Regions from separate parts of the Homo sapiens genome. Here region 1 is linked to region 2. The links come from fine-mapping of genetic effects on gene expression. Tissue or cell type: skeletal muscle. Region 2 holds a variant in brackets; the other region holds the start of a gene. All regions are shown on one strand. Distances are from middle to middle.

Evidence for each region. PIP is the estimated chance that this variant, and not a neighbour inherited with it, causes the effect.
Region 1: it holds the start of NDUFB11, and the variant in region 2 is fine-mapped to the expression of NDUFB11 in skeletal muscle (GTEx, PIP above 0.99).

The regions. Positions count from the first base shown.
Region 1 is chrX:47,141,626-47,149,625 of GRCh38, forward strand. It overlaps NDUFB11 (NADH:ubiquinone oxidoreductase subunit B11), which reads right to left and starts at 3,077. Exons shown (of 3, transcript NM_001135998.3): 1 at 2,848-3,077; 2 at 989-1,119; 3 at 591-815. The coding sequence starts at 3,054. The coding sequence ends at 692. RBM10 (RNA binding motif protein 10) reads left to right here and starts at 3,596. Exons shown (of 24, transcript NM_005676.5): 1 at 3,596-3,860; 2 at 5,732-5,873. The coding sequence starts at 5,857. RefSeq lists an enhancer at 3,620-3,889.
Region 2 is chrX:47,173,563-47,181,818 of GRCh38, forward strand. It overlaps RBM10 (RNA binding motif protein 10), which reads left to right. Exons shown (of 24, transcript NM_005676.5): 6 at 1,457-1,530; 7 at 2,938-3,024; 8 at 5,541-5,601; 9 at 5,757-5,933; 10 at 6,318-6,478; 11 at 6,650-6,747; 12 at 6,857-6,944; 13 at 7,653-7,839; 14 at 7,945-8,084; 15 at 8,187-8,256. Among named protein-coding and RNA genes, the nearest start is that of UBA1, 16 kb to the right of the region's middle. RefSeq lists an enhancer at 4,962-6,161. The variant C/G (reference allele first, on the strand shown) is at 3,421.

The DNA.
Region 1 (8,000 bases), 32 kb before region 2:
GGTCAGGAGATTGAGACCATCCTGGCCAACATGGTGAAACCCTGTCTCCACTAAAAATACAAAAATTAGCCAGGTATGGTGGCGGGCACCTGTAGTCCCAGCTACTCTGGAGGCTGAGGCAGGAGAATCGCTTGAACCCGGGAGGTGGAGATTGCAGTGAGCAGAGATTGTGCCACTGCACTCTAGCCTGGGTGACAGAGCAAGGCTCCATCTCAAAAAAAAAAAAAAAAAAAAAGTCAAGGCTGTTCTGCTGGAGAGAGGCCATATGGAAGAGGACTGAAGTGCCAGACATGTGAGTGAAGAAGCCATCTTAGATACCCAGCCCAGTTGAGCCTTCAGATGACTCCAGTCCCAGCCACCATCTAACTACAACTACCTGAGACCCCTAGAAGAGCCACCTTACTGAGCCCAGTCAACCCACAGGGCCATGAAAGAGAAGACTGAATTGTGGTTTTAAGCCACTAAGTTTTTAGGTGTTTGCTACACAGCAATATACAGCCAGAACACCCAGGGAAGGTTGCAGCAGCCCTTTTAAAGCTTTTGACACCCCCATCCCATATCCCCTTCACAACACAATCAACACTAGCGAGTCAGACTTTCAGCCCCTTTAATTAGGTGCTCTGAGAAGAGGTCAGAATGGCAGGCAGGGGGTGGGGAAGGCGGTGCTTCTTGAGCCCCACTTAGCAACTGGTCACTCATCCTCTGGCAGCTGGATCTTGCTGGGGTCGAAGCAGTTGGATTCCATGATGGGAAGGCCATTGGCCTCTCGGTATTTCACAAGCCTCTCAGCTTCGCGGCGGGACCACTCTTTCATCCTGGTAGTGCAAATAGCAGGGGTAGACGTGAGGGAGCCTCAACTGATACCAATCCCTCATCTCAGCTCCCCATTCCCAATGGTGCAGGAACAAAACTCCTGGCAGAATCCCCTTCAACCTCCATCCCTGCCTCTGCCTCTTACCCATCCCACGCTCTTGGACACCCTGTGCACCTGTAGTCAGGCAGATAGGCCACAAAGGTGCTGCCAAGGACCAGGATGATGGAGACGCCAAAGAAGAAGACAAGTCGCATGTTCCAGACGTCCAAAACGGGGTCCTTGTCATAACCATGGGAGTCTGGGTTCTGTGGAGAAATAGAGGTCAATGAGGGCTTCCTGCTGCTCCACAAAGCCTTATTCTGGCCCTGCATAACTTGGTCTCCATGTGCCCCTCTCACTAAATTCCTCTGTTTCCATTCTTGGGATATGTCAAGCTCCTTCCCACTGCAGGGCCACTGCACTTGCTGCTCTCTCTGCCTGGAAAGCCTTTCTTCCAGCTCTAGTCATGGCTGGATCTGTCTCCTCATTCAAGGTTTTAGATTCATCACCACTTCCTTCAGGAGGCACTCCCTAGTTACCTTGTCTTTCAAAGTTGAAGCATAGGAAACTGCTATTTTTATAGGTCACAAATGGTTGAATACTGGCAATTTCTTATAGCTCAAGCTAATGAAATAGCCCCCTACACCCAAGTCATTCTCTATCCACTTATCTTGCTTAACTTTGTCTTCACATCCTCTCTTCCTTCTGTCTCTTTCTAGTCTATGTTTACCTAAGTAGCATACTTTCCCCATTCTCTGTATATCATACATTCTCATGTTATATTATCTATTATACTACTTTGTATTATTGTTTTCTAATATTTTACTGTTTATTTTCTGTCTTCCCCACTATCATGTAAGCTCTATGAGAGCATGGGCTTTGTCTGATTTCCACACTGCTGTATCCCCAGGGCCCTGAACTGAGCCTGGCATACAGCAGGCCCTCAATACATATTTACAGAATGAACAAGCATCCTATATATCCAAGCCCCTTAACCAGAGGTTAGTATTGATGAAGTACTTATTATGTGCCAGTCTTTTCACATAGAAACACCTCACAATATCTCAGTGAGGTGAAACATGGCAATAATAAACACATTCTAGTGCTGAGTACATACTTACGAAGTGCCAGCTGCTGTTCTGACCATTTTTACTCATTTAATTACATGAGGCAGGTGGGGTGTCCTATTTTTTAGAAGGTGTCCTATTACTGTTCCCATCTTACAGACAAAGAAACTGAGGCACCAAGGGTTTATGCTACCAAGATCACACGGGTGGGTAACCGTCAGTGCTGCCTGATTTCACAGCGTCTGCTATTAATACAGCACAGCAGACCTGGTAGCCCTAAATTCAAATACCAGTTCCACCTCCACCATGTATTCAGTTATGTGAGCTAGGGCAATCCACTTAACATCTCTGTGCCTCAGTTTCCTCATCTGTAGGATGAGTATAATAATAGAGCCCACCTCGAAATGGGGTTTGTTTCGAGTATAAGATGAGCTAATGCATGTCAAGTGTTTAGAACACAGACGGGGCCCGGAGCGGTGGCTCATGCCTGTAATCCCAGCACCTTGGGAGGCCGAGGCGAGAGGATCGCTTGAGCCAGGAGTTCGAGACCAGCCTGGGCAACATAGCGAGATCTCGTCCCTATAAAAAAAAAAAAAAGAATGCAGACGGCAACGAGCAAGTGCCATATCGGTGTTTAGTATTATCGTTGTACTATACTGCTTCTAACGTGTTTTGAGCGCTGTCCACTTGAGGTGTGATTTCTGTCTGCAAAATAAAACCAATCCTGCCTCTGGCCCTGGAACGAAGATACCGAGAGACAAAGGAGGAACACAAGGTAGGCAAAATTCCCAAGTCTTCTAGGCTTTCGCCGGCCGCGCAGTCCTCTACTGCCTAAGAACGTCCTCTACAGCGCCCCATCTGCCGATCCCGGACTGACCCCTTCGGGGTTCCGTCCCCACTACCCCCCCCCCCCCCCCCGCCTCTCACCTTCTCATACAAGTTTTCGTCCTCGGGTTCTGGGTCCTCTTGCCACGGTGTGGTCGGTTCTGGGGGCCGCTTTCCCGCCACAGCGGACGGGGCGACCACAGTCCTGGAGAAGCTAGATTCCCAGCGGACGCGGGCGGCCGGGAGCCCTCGCGTCGCCGCTGCCGCCAAAAGACGGCGAGCGCTCAAACCAAACAGCCCAGCCGCCATGACAGATGGTGCTGCAGGGTCTCAGGGGCGGGGAAAGAAATGCGACTGTGCGCAGCTGCAGTGGGTGCGAGCGCGACAATCATCGCCCCGCCTCCGCCACGCTATATAGGTCCCAGATCTGATTTGGTTTTCCAATGAGGCGGGGCGTTGAGCAACCCTCTTTGCCTCCAGTTGTCGTGGCTTCGTGGGGCCAACCATTTTCGGCCAGGCTGAGAAATTTCTTATTGATGGGTCTGCTCATTTCCTGCATAGGAAGAAATCGGTGACATTTGGGTGGATACAGTTCCCAGCCAATCGCCCCGAGTTCCCTCGCCCACTGGGGAAAGAGGCAGAGCTTCCGCTAGTCTTTCATCTTCAAAGGAAATCAAGCTTCTAAAAAGCGGGCCCTGCCGAATTGGCTAATAGCTACTCCTTTTCTCCACTAGGGGAGCGTTCGCAAGGGGTGTGGGGAGGTGGCCAGCGCTTGCCAATCAGAGGAGGCCAGGGCTGTCCCCTAGCGGGCGGTGACCAATCGCCGGGGCCGGCCAGAGCGCGCTTCCTTAGTAGGTGGATGGTGGTCGGAGCGCCGACTCCCTTCTCGTCGTCGCCATTTTGAGCTGGTGACTGTGGCCGGCTGGGAGTAGGCGGCAGTGAGTTTCCCTGGGAGGGCAGCGCGCTTGGCGCTTCTCCCCTCCCCCCGATCTGCCTCCAGTCTCGGACTTGGTTGTTGCGCGCTCCGGCTCCGGCTGAGCTGGGAGAGTTGGAGGAGGTGGCGGCGGGCAGAGGTGATGTCTGGGAGCCCTTCCTTGACAGCCCGGGCCGAGAAGGTGAGCGTCGACGCTGGTCGTGGGGGCGGAGGTAAGGGGCCCGGGGCGGGGACGTAGAGGAGGCGCGAGGGCGGACTTCGGGTCGGGGGAGATGCGCGGAACGGAGGGGTTGGTGCAATGTCTCAACCCGGGAGGGTTTTTTTTTTTTTGGTTTTTTTTTTTTTTTTTTTTTTTTTTGGTGTGAGCAAAGGCGCGTGCGCGACTGGGACATGGGATGGGTGCATGCGGGTTGGGGGAAGGGAGGGACGGATGGGAGTGGGCTACTGTGGATCACTGTGTCGGCTACATCGAAGTTTATCAGTGGGGAAGCGGTTGTCTGCGACTTTGAGTTTGTGCATAGGAGAGGGGATGCTGCTCTGTGTTACTCTGGTGTTTATCGGTCCATGGGGAAATATTCTGTGGTTCTGGTCTCTATTCCTGGGGGATCGGAGGGGGGATGTGACTCTGGTCTTTACCCTTTGAGGGGGGGCGGTCTGTGACTCTGATCCTTATCCATGGGGCGGGGCTTGGGGGACGACTGTCTTTTGATTGACCCTAACCCACTTATTGGGTGGGAAGGGGCATGCAGGGAATGTGTGTGTGACTCATTGCCCCTTCTTTTGGGGAGTTTGTATCTGTGACACTGACGCTCATCCATGGAAAGGGGACCCACTGTGTAATTGTGGTCCTTACTGTGTGTTCCTTCTGTGATGTGGGCCCGTAGTTATTTGGGGCTCGTGTCTGTGACTGGCCCTTGGCTGTGGTGGATGTTACTGTGTGACTCTGGCCCCTTTGCCAGAGTCTCTTGAAGGTTTTTGTGCTCTCAGACGCCAGTGCCTCTGTGTGATTCTAACTCTTGCCCACCTGGGAGCAGGTAACTCGGGTTCCCTGTGGCTTGAGGAGGAAGAGAAAATTGGAGTGTGTTTGTCTGTGTATGTGTGTGCACGAGCATAGAGCAAAGGTGTGGCAGCAACCTAGTGTTGAGCAGGTGCTATTATTGCCTGGCTTTACCTGCTTCTTATTCAGAGGGTGGGGCCTGAAGATCTGGGATTCATCCTGACCTCTGGCTGGGTCACAGGGTTCTCAGGACTCCCTGAGTTCTCACCACAGCCCTGAGGGTTGGATGAAGTGGCTGCTGCTCCATCCCAATAGAAGAGCACAGTGGTTCAGAACAGCCTCCAAAAGGGCCCCTTTTGCCTCTGGAAACCGGGCTTGAGCCCTGGGGAGGGAACCACCTTAGGACCGGGCTGCACATAAGAGACAGGGCTCAGGGCTGAGCCAGTTGCTGTGTGAGGGCCAAGGCTGTGTTGGCCAGGAGCCCAGGGAGGTGGCAGCTGTCTCGTCGCCAAGTTCGCCCCTTCACACACCCCCCCAAGAGCCTTTCATGGTCTTTTGCTGCCTTATAGGGGACAGCCAGCAGCTTGTTGGGAGGATGAGATGGTCCCTTGGGGCCTGTGGAAGGAGCCTGGGGCCCCCATTGTTGTGAAGTCTTGTCTGATGTGCTGAATCTCAGGCAAGACTTTCAGCCCTGAGAGTCCCCTACCCCCACCCTGGGATGCAGCCCCAGGCTTGAATTTGTCTACCTGTCTTAGGTGGCAAAGCCCTGATCACACTGTGGGTGGCCCCGCCAGGTCTCTCTGCAAGATGCCCCCTGTCTGCTGAAGTCCTTGCTGTTTTCTAGGGCAGTGGGCTCTAGCCTTATGTTTGCGGGGAAAGGGAGGAGCAGGCCAAGTAGGGGCTACCTTCATACTGTGATGCACAGGAGTGCTGGGAGCTGGAAGACAATGTCCCTGGGCTAAGGGGCAGCGGAGAGCCTTGACAATAAGAGTTTCTCAAGGAGGCCCTCTCAGTCCCAACAGTTTTGACCCCTTTCTTCCCTCCACTCTCCCCAGAGTCCCTGCAGGAAGCATCACCCAGGCTGGCAGATCATGGTAGCAGCAGCGGGGGTGGCTGGGAAGTGAAACGGAGCCAGCGGCTGAGGAGGGGCCCCAGCAGCCCCCGAAGGCCCTATCAGGACATGGAGTATGAAAGACGGTGAGTTATCTGTTCTCAGCTTCCCAGACAGCCTAGGCTTGCGTCTATGTGAGAATTGATCCAAGAAGGTGCTAGGATGGGGCTTCTGGGTAGAGGAAACAGCATAGCAGATGATGGGTTTCTTTTCAGCAGACAGGTGTTTGGCACCTGTTGTGAGCCAGGACCTGTGCTAGGCTCTGATAGTGCAGTGATGAATGAGACATGAGATTGCATCCTTCTCAGTACTCAGGGTGTCACAGGGACGCTATGCAGTTAACGGGTGGGAGGTTGAGGTTGGGGCTATAGCCTGGGGTATGAGGGATGGGTGGGAATGGCACCATCAGAGTCAGGATTTGCCCGGGACCACTAGGGGACAAGCCAGGTCAGATAGTGGAAGACTCCAGGGACAGTATGGGCTACAGTTGGCATGATACTTGCTGGGAATGGATACTCTCAGACAGTTATTTCTTCAGCTCTGCTATGAACAAGGAATAGCTGGAACACTGGGTAAAATACAGAAATCCTGAGTAAAATTCAGTGATCCCTCGCCATCCAGGTGATTCCGAGGCAGGTGACCCAGCCATGACACTTGAAGATTGCCTAGAAAAGCAGACCTAACTCTCTCAGAAAGCCTCTATTAAGACTCAAGAGTCAATAGCTTTATAAAAAGAGAAAATAATTTTTAAAATGTTTTACGAAGTGTTTCTTCTACCACCACTCCTTTTAAAAATGTAGAATTGTAATATTTTGTTTTCTGAAAAGTGAGCCCAAATTTGAGATAAGGTCATCACCTAGTGTTATTCAGTCTTGGCTTTCATTAGAAATGTTTTTTGAAAGACATTTGATTTTGGACGGTATTCACTAGAAGTGCTCTGTGGCCATTTCTGAATTTGAGTAGCTGACATACATACTTTGTTCAAACTTTATTACCAAGTAAAACCATTGACTTTTAAAAGCCCTCAAGTGCAGAGGTTTGAGTTCATCATACTTTCCAGTTCAAGGTAGGTTTCTGTCATAGGTCAGCAAAAGGCTTCCTCTTGTCATGTTTATTTTTTCATTTTTATTCCCAATTCCCACCTCTGTGGGCAGCTGCTCTGTCGTGTTTGATATGTATCCTTCTATGATACATATCATAGAAAATGTATCCTTCTATGATACATATCATAGAAAATGTATCCTTCTATGATACATATCATAGAAAATGTATCCTTCTATGATACATATCATAGAAAATGTATCCTTCTATGATACATATCATAGAAAATGTATCCTTCTATGATACATATCATAGAAAATGTATCCTTCTATGATACATATCATAGAAAATGTATCCTTCTATGATACATATCATAGAAAATGTATCCTTCTATGATACATATCATAGAAAATGTATCCTTCTATGATACATATCATAGAAAATGTATCCTTCTATGATACATATCATAGAAAATGTATCCTTCTATGATACATATCATAGAAAATGTATCATAGATTTATCATATAGATCATTTTCATATAAATGTATCATATAGATACATGTATCATATAAATACATACATAAATGTATCATATAGATACATTTTCATAGAAAATGAAAATATGAAGTGTTGTTTTGAGTGACTGTGTTTTCAGTTGACACACATGGCATGGTGCCACAGTCTTCGTTTTGTTTCCTGAACTTTGTATTACTCAGAGTGGGAGGTTTTTTTTGTTTTTTGTTTTTTGTTTTGAGACAGGGTGTCTCTATGTTGCCCAGGCTGGTCTCAAACTCCTGGGCTCAGGCAATTCTCCTCCCTTGGCCTCCCAAAGTGCTGGGATTAAAGGCATGAGCCGCTGTAACTGGCCAACAGTGCTGTTTTTTTTTGTTTGTTTGTTTTGTTTTGTTTTGTTTCTTTGTTTTGAGAAAGAGTTTCACTCTTGTTGCCCAGGCTGGAGTGCAATGGCGCAGTCTTGGCTGACCACAACCTCTGCCTCCCGGTTTCAAGCGATTCTCCTGCCTTAGCCTCCCACATAGCTGGGATTTCAGGCATGTGCCACCACGCCTGGCTAATTTTGTATTTTTAGTAGAGATGGGGTTTCTCCATGCTGGTCAGGCTGGTCTCGAACTCTCGACTTCAGGTGATCCTCCCATCTTGGCCTCCCAAAGTG
Region 2 (8,256 bases):
CTTTCCCCCACATTTTTTGGTAACAGCCTCTGACCAGAAAGTAGCTCTGACGTGGTGGTCCCACATGTGTGTCCCAAGGGGGAAGCAGGGGATGGCTCTTATCCAAGGACACATCCCAAGGAACAGCCAGGACTTCCTGGCCTCGCCTGTTCCCTCCCTCCCTCCCTCTTGCAGGCTGCTTGGAGCTGGCCTGAGGTTAGCAGGGTGGTGGTGGGGGGAGTTGTCTCTACAGGACCTCTGCCCAGGCTCCCCAAGGCAGGCACAGTGGGGCCTCACTCTGCCTGGGCTTCTCTCTCCATCTCTCAGTCTCTCCTCCCCACACCTCCATCTCTCTCTCTCTCTCTCTCTCTCTCTCTCTCTCTCTCTCTCTCTTTCTCCCTCTCTCTCTTTCTCTCTCTCTGCCCCCCCCAACTATATTATTCATTCCATCCTCCTATGCATCCTAACGGTTATTCTTTTGAACATTAAGCATGCCCCCCCAAGCCCCTCTCATCCAAGCCCTCCCCATGTATCTGCCTCTAAAGGACATGCTATCCTGAGGCCTCAACCCTGAATCCCTTTCCCAAGCCTGGAATCTTGGTTGCATGTAGGTCTTGCTCTGCATCACCCCAACTACACCACACACGGACAGCTTCTGGGTCTCTCTCTCCACAAGGAGGTGTTCCAGGTGCGGCCTTCTCAATGGCCCTGGGCGCTTCTCCCAGGCACCCATTGATTCTTACCTCTAAGGTCCTCCTGGCCAATCCTGGCCACCATTCTCCTTTTGTCCAGGGGAACCTGGACTGTTTGTGGCTGTAGTCTCCACCCTGTGGCCCTGAGGTGGCTCCCTAGCGAGGCCCGCCTCCCCTGCGCTGCGGTGAGGCTGAGATGAGGTCGTGTCTTTAACCGCCCCTGGTTTCCAATGGGCCAAGAGCCTTCCTAGCCTCGCAGAGCAGCCTGGCCCAGCTTCTCTTTTGCTCCTGTGATTCAACACCTGTTACAGGACCCCTCCTGGGCACCCCTGGCCTTGAGCTGGGCCCGCCCTGGAGTTACGTATTGTGGCTTGTGTGGAGCCAGCAGCCTGCCCACCATCCCCTCCCTCCTTCTTTGGAGGCAGATCTCTCGTATTCTTTCCCTCCCAGCTGCTTCTCTCCGTCTCTGTCACCCCAGGCTGGCTGGGCAGGTCTGCCCGAGCCCCATCTCTCTCTTCCCAGTTGGTGTGTGTGTCTCTCCCCCTACCGACCTCTGGCCTCTGTTTTTCTCCCTCCACCTTCCCTGCCCCACCTGGCCATCTACCTTGCCCCCCACGCCCGCTAGTCTTTCTCTCTCTGATTGCCTCTTTCTCTTTCTTCCTTTTTCCTCTTCCCCTTTCCCTCTCTGCCCCCCGTCCTCTCCCCTCGGGTCCCGCCCCCGGGAACGCCGTGTGTCCAAAGCTGTTGACTAACCCACTGCGTCTGTATCTGAATGCTGTCTCCAGGTCAGAGCCGGGGCTTCGCCTTCGTCGAGTTTAGTCACTTGCAGGACGCTACACGATGGATGGAAGCCAATCAGGTTGCTTTGCCGCACTTGAACCCCCCCCCAAACAAATACTACTTTGTAATCGAGCGCTCCCCATCGCCTGATTCTTATGGACACAGTTCCCTGCCCTGTGGCCCTGTGTCCCATCCCCCCGCCCCCTCTCTCCCCTTCCTGACCCTCACTATCTCCTCTTCCCATCTCTCGCTACCCCACTGGGCTTCTCATCCAGAGCCCACACTCACCACTGGCCCCTTCCTACCACCAGGCACTAGTGCTGCCCCTTCACCTCTCCCAGCTGAGCGTTCAGAGAAAGAGCTGCCAGGGTGGGTTCTTTCACCTAGCTTCCCACTCCCCCGGGGCTGGTGGGGGGGGCACCCCTCTCTGGGGTTAGCCAGAGCCAGGACCTCATTCCACCCTCAGGACCACTGGAAGTCCTGCCAGTGAGGAGCTTAGCTATTGGCACAGTCACTAGCAAGACTCATTTTGTCAGCCCCATCCCTGCATGTGAATTTGGCCCTTTGATTTTCATGCAAGGGGACAGCACTGCTCTGTTGATCTCAAGTTCCCGTCGAGTATGATAGTTTTATCGACACCCTGGCCTCACTTCGCCGCCCCTACCCTTCCTATCACATCTCCACACTCGCAGGAGGCACCACCTCAGGCAGCTCTGTCTTCTCGGCAAGGACCTGTGCACAGTCAGCCCTGGGGGGAGCCTGTCCCCCAAGCCTGGCACGGGATCCCAACTCAGCAGCTTTGGGACCTCCGAGACCCAAAGATCTGCCTGGTCACCCACCCCTGCCCAGATCCCTGGTGTAGGGCACTGGAGAGCAGTTTCAGGGGAGGAAGGGGCAGAGGTGGTAGAATGGGGGATCCCGGCAGAGGCAGCCCTGGGGCCGTCTCCTCGGGGTTGGTAGGCTAGTGCCATGGGCCCAGGACCCAGCCATCCATGGGAAGACGGCCTCATGGCAGAAACTTCCATCTGTTCGAAATGGCTCTTTCTTTTTCCCCTTCTCCAGCACTAGCGCACCTGCGCTCTCTTTCTCTTTTTCTCCCCTCTCCCTCCCCCTCCCTGTCTCCCCTCACCCCCCAAGTGTAGCCTGTGTAGTCCTGGCCCTGGGTGTGGCCTGGCAGTGTCAGGGCCGAGTGGGGGTTTCTCCCCACTGTCCGGCAAGCGTCGGTCAGCCGAACACTGTGTGCCTGGTGGTGTGTGTTCACATGTGTGCGTGCGTGTGCCCGGCAGAGCAGCAAACAGCTGCGCCCGAGAGCTGTGGCGCTTTCCCTCCCTACCTCCCTTCTTCCCTCCATCCGCTCTCCGACCTCCCTCCGTTCCCTGTCCCTCATCCATCCAGCTGAAGGGCTCGCTCACTCTCTTCTCCTATGCTGAAACGGTGCGTGGGGCACTGCTGCCTGGACCTCACTGTGCTCTGCTTTTTCCCGCAGCACTCCCTCAACATCCTGGGCCAGAAGGTGTCGATGCACTACAGTGACCCCAAGCCCAAGATCAATGAGGACTGGCTGTGCAATAAGGTACAGGGGCGGTGGGCAGCAGTTGTCATGGACAGAGACAGCAACAGCAGTGGCGGCGATCTCTCCCTTCCTCTCCCGCTCTTTCTCCCTCCATCTCTCCCCCTCCCCCAATCTCTCCTCTCCCTCTGTCTCTCTCTCTCTCTCTCTCTCTCTCTCTCATTCTCTATCCCTTGCTAGCTCAGCTTGAGTAGTCACCATTCCTAGCCAGCCATATACAAATGTGTAGTGAGCGTTCACTTGGTGCAGGCTCTGTCCTCCTAAAATGCAGTCTTGCCTGGAGTTCCAGTAGACTTTAAGGAAATATATACGTGGATGATGAATTAGTGACAGTGTAGACTTGAAGTGGTGGTGTGGAGAATGTGGGCTTCAGAGCCAGACTGGCTGAAATGAGACTAT[C/G]CCAGATCGGCCTTGATTTTGGCCAAGGTGCTTAGCCTCTCTTTGCCTCACTTTCCCCATCTCTAAAATGTGAATATTAATGACACCTCTCCCAAAAGGTGGTTGGGAGGATTCAGCTGTGTTAATGAGAGAGTAACACTCAGAACAGTGCCTGGCCCACATTTAACACAGTCGAATTGTTAACTGTAATCATGAAAGAAAAGCACAGAGCGTTCTGAGAGCCCATAGCAGGTAGCTCAAGCCTGAAGGCCACTCTGACCAGGCCAAGTCAAACCTGAAACTGGAGGCTGTGGTTTTGTAGTCACCTCTGTCTTCCCTGAGGGGAAGCTGAGGCTCAGAGAGGTGGAACCATGGGTGAACCTTTAGCTGTGCCCTGTGCCTTGCTCCTGATCACAGGGACTTGGATGCCACAGTGGCTTCAGGTCTGCCCTGGGGCCAGCATTGTGATTCCACAGTTTGTAGAGGCCCCAACCCTCTCCCCAGGAAGTACTCTGCCTAGTCAGGGAGAGTGGTGCATCTGTTTTAAAAAAAAAAGTCCCATCAGAGGATTGGTGCTTAACATTTCTGGAGAGATAAAGACAAAGTGACAGTGGAACTCCTTCCTGTGTTTCCAGATAGCCTCAAAACCAGGGAATTCTCTTTTTTTTTTTTTTGAGACAGGATCTGGCTCTGTCGCCCAGGCTGGAGTGCAGCAATCTGGGCTCACTGCAACCTCTGTCTCCAGCGCTCAAGCCATCAGCCTCCAGAGTAGCTGGGACCACAGGCGCATGCCACCACACCCACTAATTTTTGCCTTTTTATTTTTATTTTTTTTGGTAGAGACAGGGTTTCGTCATGTTTGCCAGGCTGGTCTTGAACTCCTGAGCTCAAGCAGTCCTCACGCCTCAGCCTCCCAAAGTGCTGGGATTACAGGCGTGAGCCACCACGCCCAGCCCAAAACCAGGGAATTCTCTTGAACTCCTTCCCCTCCCCTGCATCCTGTTGGCCACCAGGTCCTGTCACTTCCATCACAGAAACGCCACCTTCCCTCCCTCGCCATTCCCGCTGCTCATGCCAATCGTCACGCTCTCACCCACTCACTGTGGAGCCCTCTCTGGTATGCTGGCCTCTTGTCCTCTTTCTCCCACGCCCTCACCTGGAACATTCCTCAAAACCACCTCTGACTACCCACGCCTCTCCTCCTCTGCTTAACCAGCCCCAGCTCAGCTTAAGCATAAGATCCTCCATTACCTAACTGGCTTCCTTCCCCGGCCTTGGCTTTTGCTTCTCCCCTTACTCTCCCACACCAGTTTCGGAAAGTCCATTGTTCCCTCCGATAACAATCCCTCCCCAGCAAGGCTTAACAAAATGAAACTTCTGGGCATCCCAGGTCAAACCTCCCTGCTTCTGTGCAGGGACTGTCCCTGCCGAGTAAATGGCACCCCACCCCCAGCCCATTTCCCTCCCCGAGCCCCTGCTGGATGGTCCATGCAGACCGACCTGCCCCTCTTCATGCTGCATCTGCCCCTGTGCTATTAGGCCATGAGGGCAGAGACCATGTTCTGGCCATGTGCAGCAGGGCCTGGCCCAGGAGTGGTGCTTAGTACCTGAGTCTGGAACAGAGATGGAGTGTGGTAGAAGCTGGGTCTCCAGATGCTGGAACATTCAAGGAAAATTTCTCAAGCGTAGCAGGATCCAACCCAGTCCTAGAGCTAAGAGGAGGGGTGCGGGTCTGGCTACTGACTTCTAGGGCTGAAACACTGAAAGGTTTCTGAATAGAGGAGCAAGTTTCAGGGAGAGGAACCTAATAAAGGGATTGAATACCTGAGGCGGGGAACAGTCCTGGGAGTTGGTGGCCTTAAGAAGGCAGAGGAAGGAGAGGAGGGAGTTGTTGTACCAAATGGGGGAGTTGTTTATTCCTGAGCTGAGTGGGTTGGCACAGAGGACAAATGAGAGTCTGGAAAGGGAAGATGCACAGTACTGAGAACAACATCAGAAGGTTCAGAAGGCACCTGCCACCATTGCCTAGGGGCTTTCCTTCCTGGGGCACTGCGGGGTCCCTGGGAGATCTCTTCATCCAAGTTTGGAGGGTGCAGTGGGAAATCCCTGCTCCCTCTGACGGCCTGGCCTGTGCCTCACAGTGTGGCGTCCAGAACTTCAAACGCCGAGAGAAGTGCTTCAAATGTGGCGTGCCCAAGTCAGGTGAGGCCCACCTACCTCTCGTGCTCTCCAGGGCGGAGCGGTTGGGGAGAAGGGAAGGGTGAGGGGTCTGTGCTCAGGGCTTGGTATAGGGAGGAGGGTGACCAGTCGTGGAGCCTTCCCCTTATCACCAGCCTGTCTCCCACTGCCCCTGACAGAGGCAGAGCAGAAGCTGCCCCTCGGCACGAGGCTGGATCAGCAGACACTGCCACTGGGTGGCCGGGAGCTGAGCCAGGGCCTGCTTCCCCTGCCGCAGCCCTACCAGGCCCAGGGAGTCCTGGCCTCCCAAGCCCTGTCACAGGGCTCGGAGCCAAGCTCAGAGAACGCCAATGACAGTGAGTCAGTTGTTCCTTCTTCCTCTGTGCCCTAGGGTGTCGGGCTGGGCTCACCAAGACCAGAGAAATGGCAGTGAGCAGGACCTCATCCTCATGGAATCTCCACTTGGTGCGGGGATAGACATTTGATGTAGGGAGAACAGGGGGAGTGGCAACATCCCACCTGACTTTGGGGGTGTGTCGGGAAGGTTCTCAGCAGACAGGCAGCCAGGCTGGCACCTGGACCGCCAAGCAGAGTTGATCCTGGAGGAAGCAGTGAGGGAAGCGGCAGTTGCAAAGGCACGGAGTGAGTGGGGGCAGAGGAAAGGGAGCAGTGGGGGCATTGAAGGGCAGGGCTGGCAAGAGTGCCAGGGGTGTCCTCTAACATTGGGCCCCTTCCCACAGCCATCATTTTGCGCAACCTGAACCCACACAGCACCATGGATTCCATCCTGGGGGCCCTGGCACCCTACGCGGTGCTGTCCTCCTCCAACGTGCGCGTCATAAAGGACAAGCAGACCCAACTGAACCGCGGCTTTGCCTTCATCCAGCTCTCCACCATCGTGGTGAGGGCGGCACAGTTGGGGGCCGGGCAGCCAGGGTCCCGGCCCCCGGGGTGGAGACGAGGGTCCTTTTCCCCAGCCTCCCACCGCGGCTGCCAGCCTGGAAATCGGGCAATGGAGCCGGGGGCCTCCCCGGGCCTGACCCTTCTGTCCCTGCCTCCCCTCCTCCCACAGGAGGCAGCCCAGCTGCTGCAGATCCTGCAGGCCCTGCACCCACCACTCACTATCGACGGCAAGACCATCAATGTTGAGTTTGCCAAGGGTTCTAAGAGGTCAGGGCCCCACCTGTGTGCCTTCCCACCCTTCCCCTCCCCACCCTCCCACTCCCCCCTACCGCTTGGGGCCTCCTATCTCACTCCCAGTCTCTAACATCCTCCTCAGGGACATGGCCTCCAATGAAGGCAGTCGCATCAGTGCTGCCTCTGTGGCCAGCACTGCCATTGCTGCGGCCCAGTGGGCCATCTCACAGGTACTCAGACCCCTTGTGCCTCCCAGCGTCCTGAGACCTGGGCTTTCTCAACCCTCCTGCACCCTCTCTGAAGCAGGAAGGCTGGCTTGCTATCCATGGATGCAAAACCCTCTCCCAGTAGCTGGCATGGCTATTCTACCTTGCTCCTGGCTCTCTAGACCCCCTGGGACATTCCCCTTCATCATCACCGCAGCTTTCTTCCCAATTGCCTCCCATGCGCTCATGTACGACGCCATTGTGCCTGGCATTCTGTGCTGTTTGGTGGGGTTTTTATTGTCCTGAATAGGTATGATATACACATATCCTTATATGTAATATATACATATATGATATACACGTATCATATGTTCCTGAATAAAAATAACGTATAAGTGGTTGAGAGAAAATTGGGAGAAGAGAATAAAGAAGTAAGAAGATGGTGTCTTCCTTGGCCTGACACCCAACACACACGCCACACACAGCAGAATCAGCAGAATCAGCCCTGGAACATTTTGGCGTTCATCTGTTTTTCTGTCTTGTGTTTGCCACTGGCCTATTTGTTCTCTTGTGGCCAGGCAACCCTCGCTTTCCACTTGTCTTAAGGCTGCATGCTTTGTCTGTCAGGTAGAAATACTAGCCCCACGTGTGGGACAGATGCTTCTAGCAGGTTCCCCACCCCCCACCCCCACACCTTCCTGTTCTAATGAACCCCTCCCACCTGCCCTTCAGGCCTCCCAAGGTGGGGAGGGTACCTGGGCCACCTCCGAGGAGCCGCCGGTCGACTACAGCTACTACCAACAGGATGAGGGCTATGGCAACAGCCAGGGCACAGAGTCTTCCCTCTATGCCCATGGCTACCTCAAGGGCACCAAGGGCCCTGGCATCACTGGAACCAAAGGGGATCCCACTGGAGCAGGTGAGCCCCAGCATCTCTCTCTGCAGCTGTGGTGGGGGCCAGCAGGCATAAAGTCCCCGGCCCCATTATTCACAGGCATTGTCCCTGCCCTGTCCCTCCTTACAGGTCCCGAGGCCTCCCTAGAGCCTGGGGCCGACTCTGTGTCGATGCAGGCTTTCTCTCGCGCCCAGCCTGGTGCTGCTCCTGGCATCTACCAACAATCAGCCGAGGCGAGCAGTAGCCAGGGCACTGCTGCCAACAGCCAGGTGAGTGAGCCCTGTGGGTATGTATCCCGGGGAGGCAGGCAGGCGGCAGGGGTGGCATGGGCAGACACTGAGCCCTGTTCTCCTGTCTGGCCCCATGACCAGTCGTATACCATCATGTCACCCGCTGTGCTCAAATCTGAGCTCCAGAGCCCTACCCATCCTAGTTCTGCTC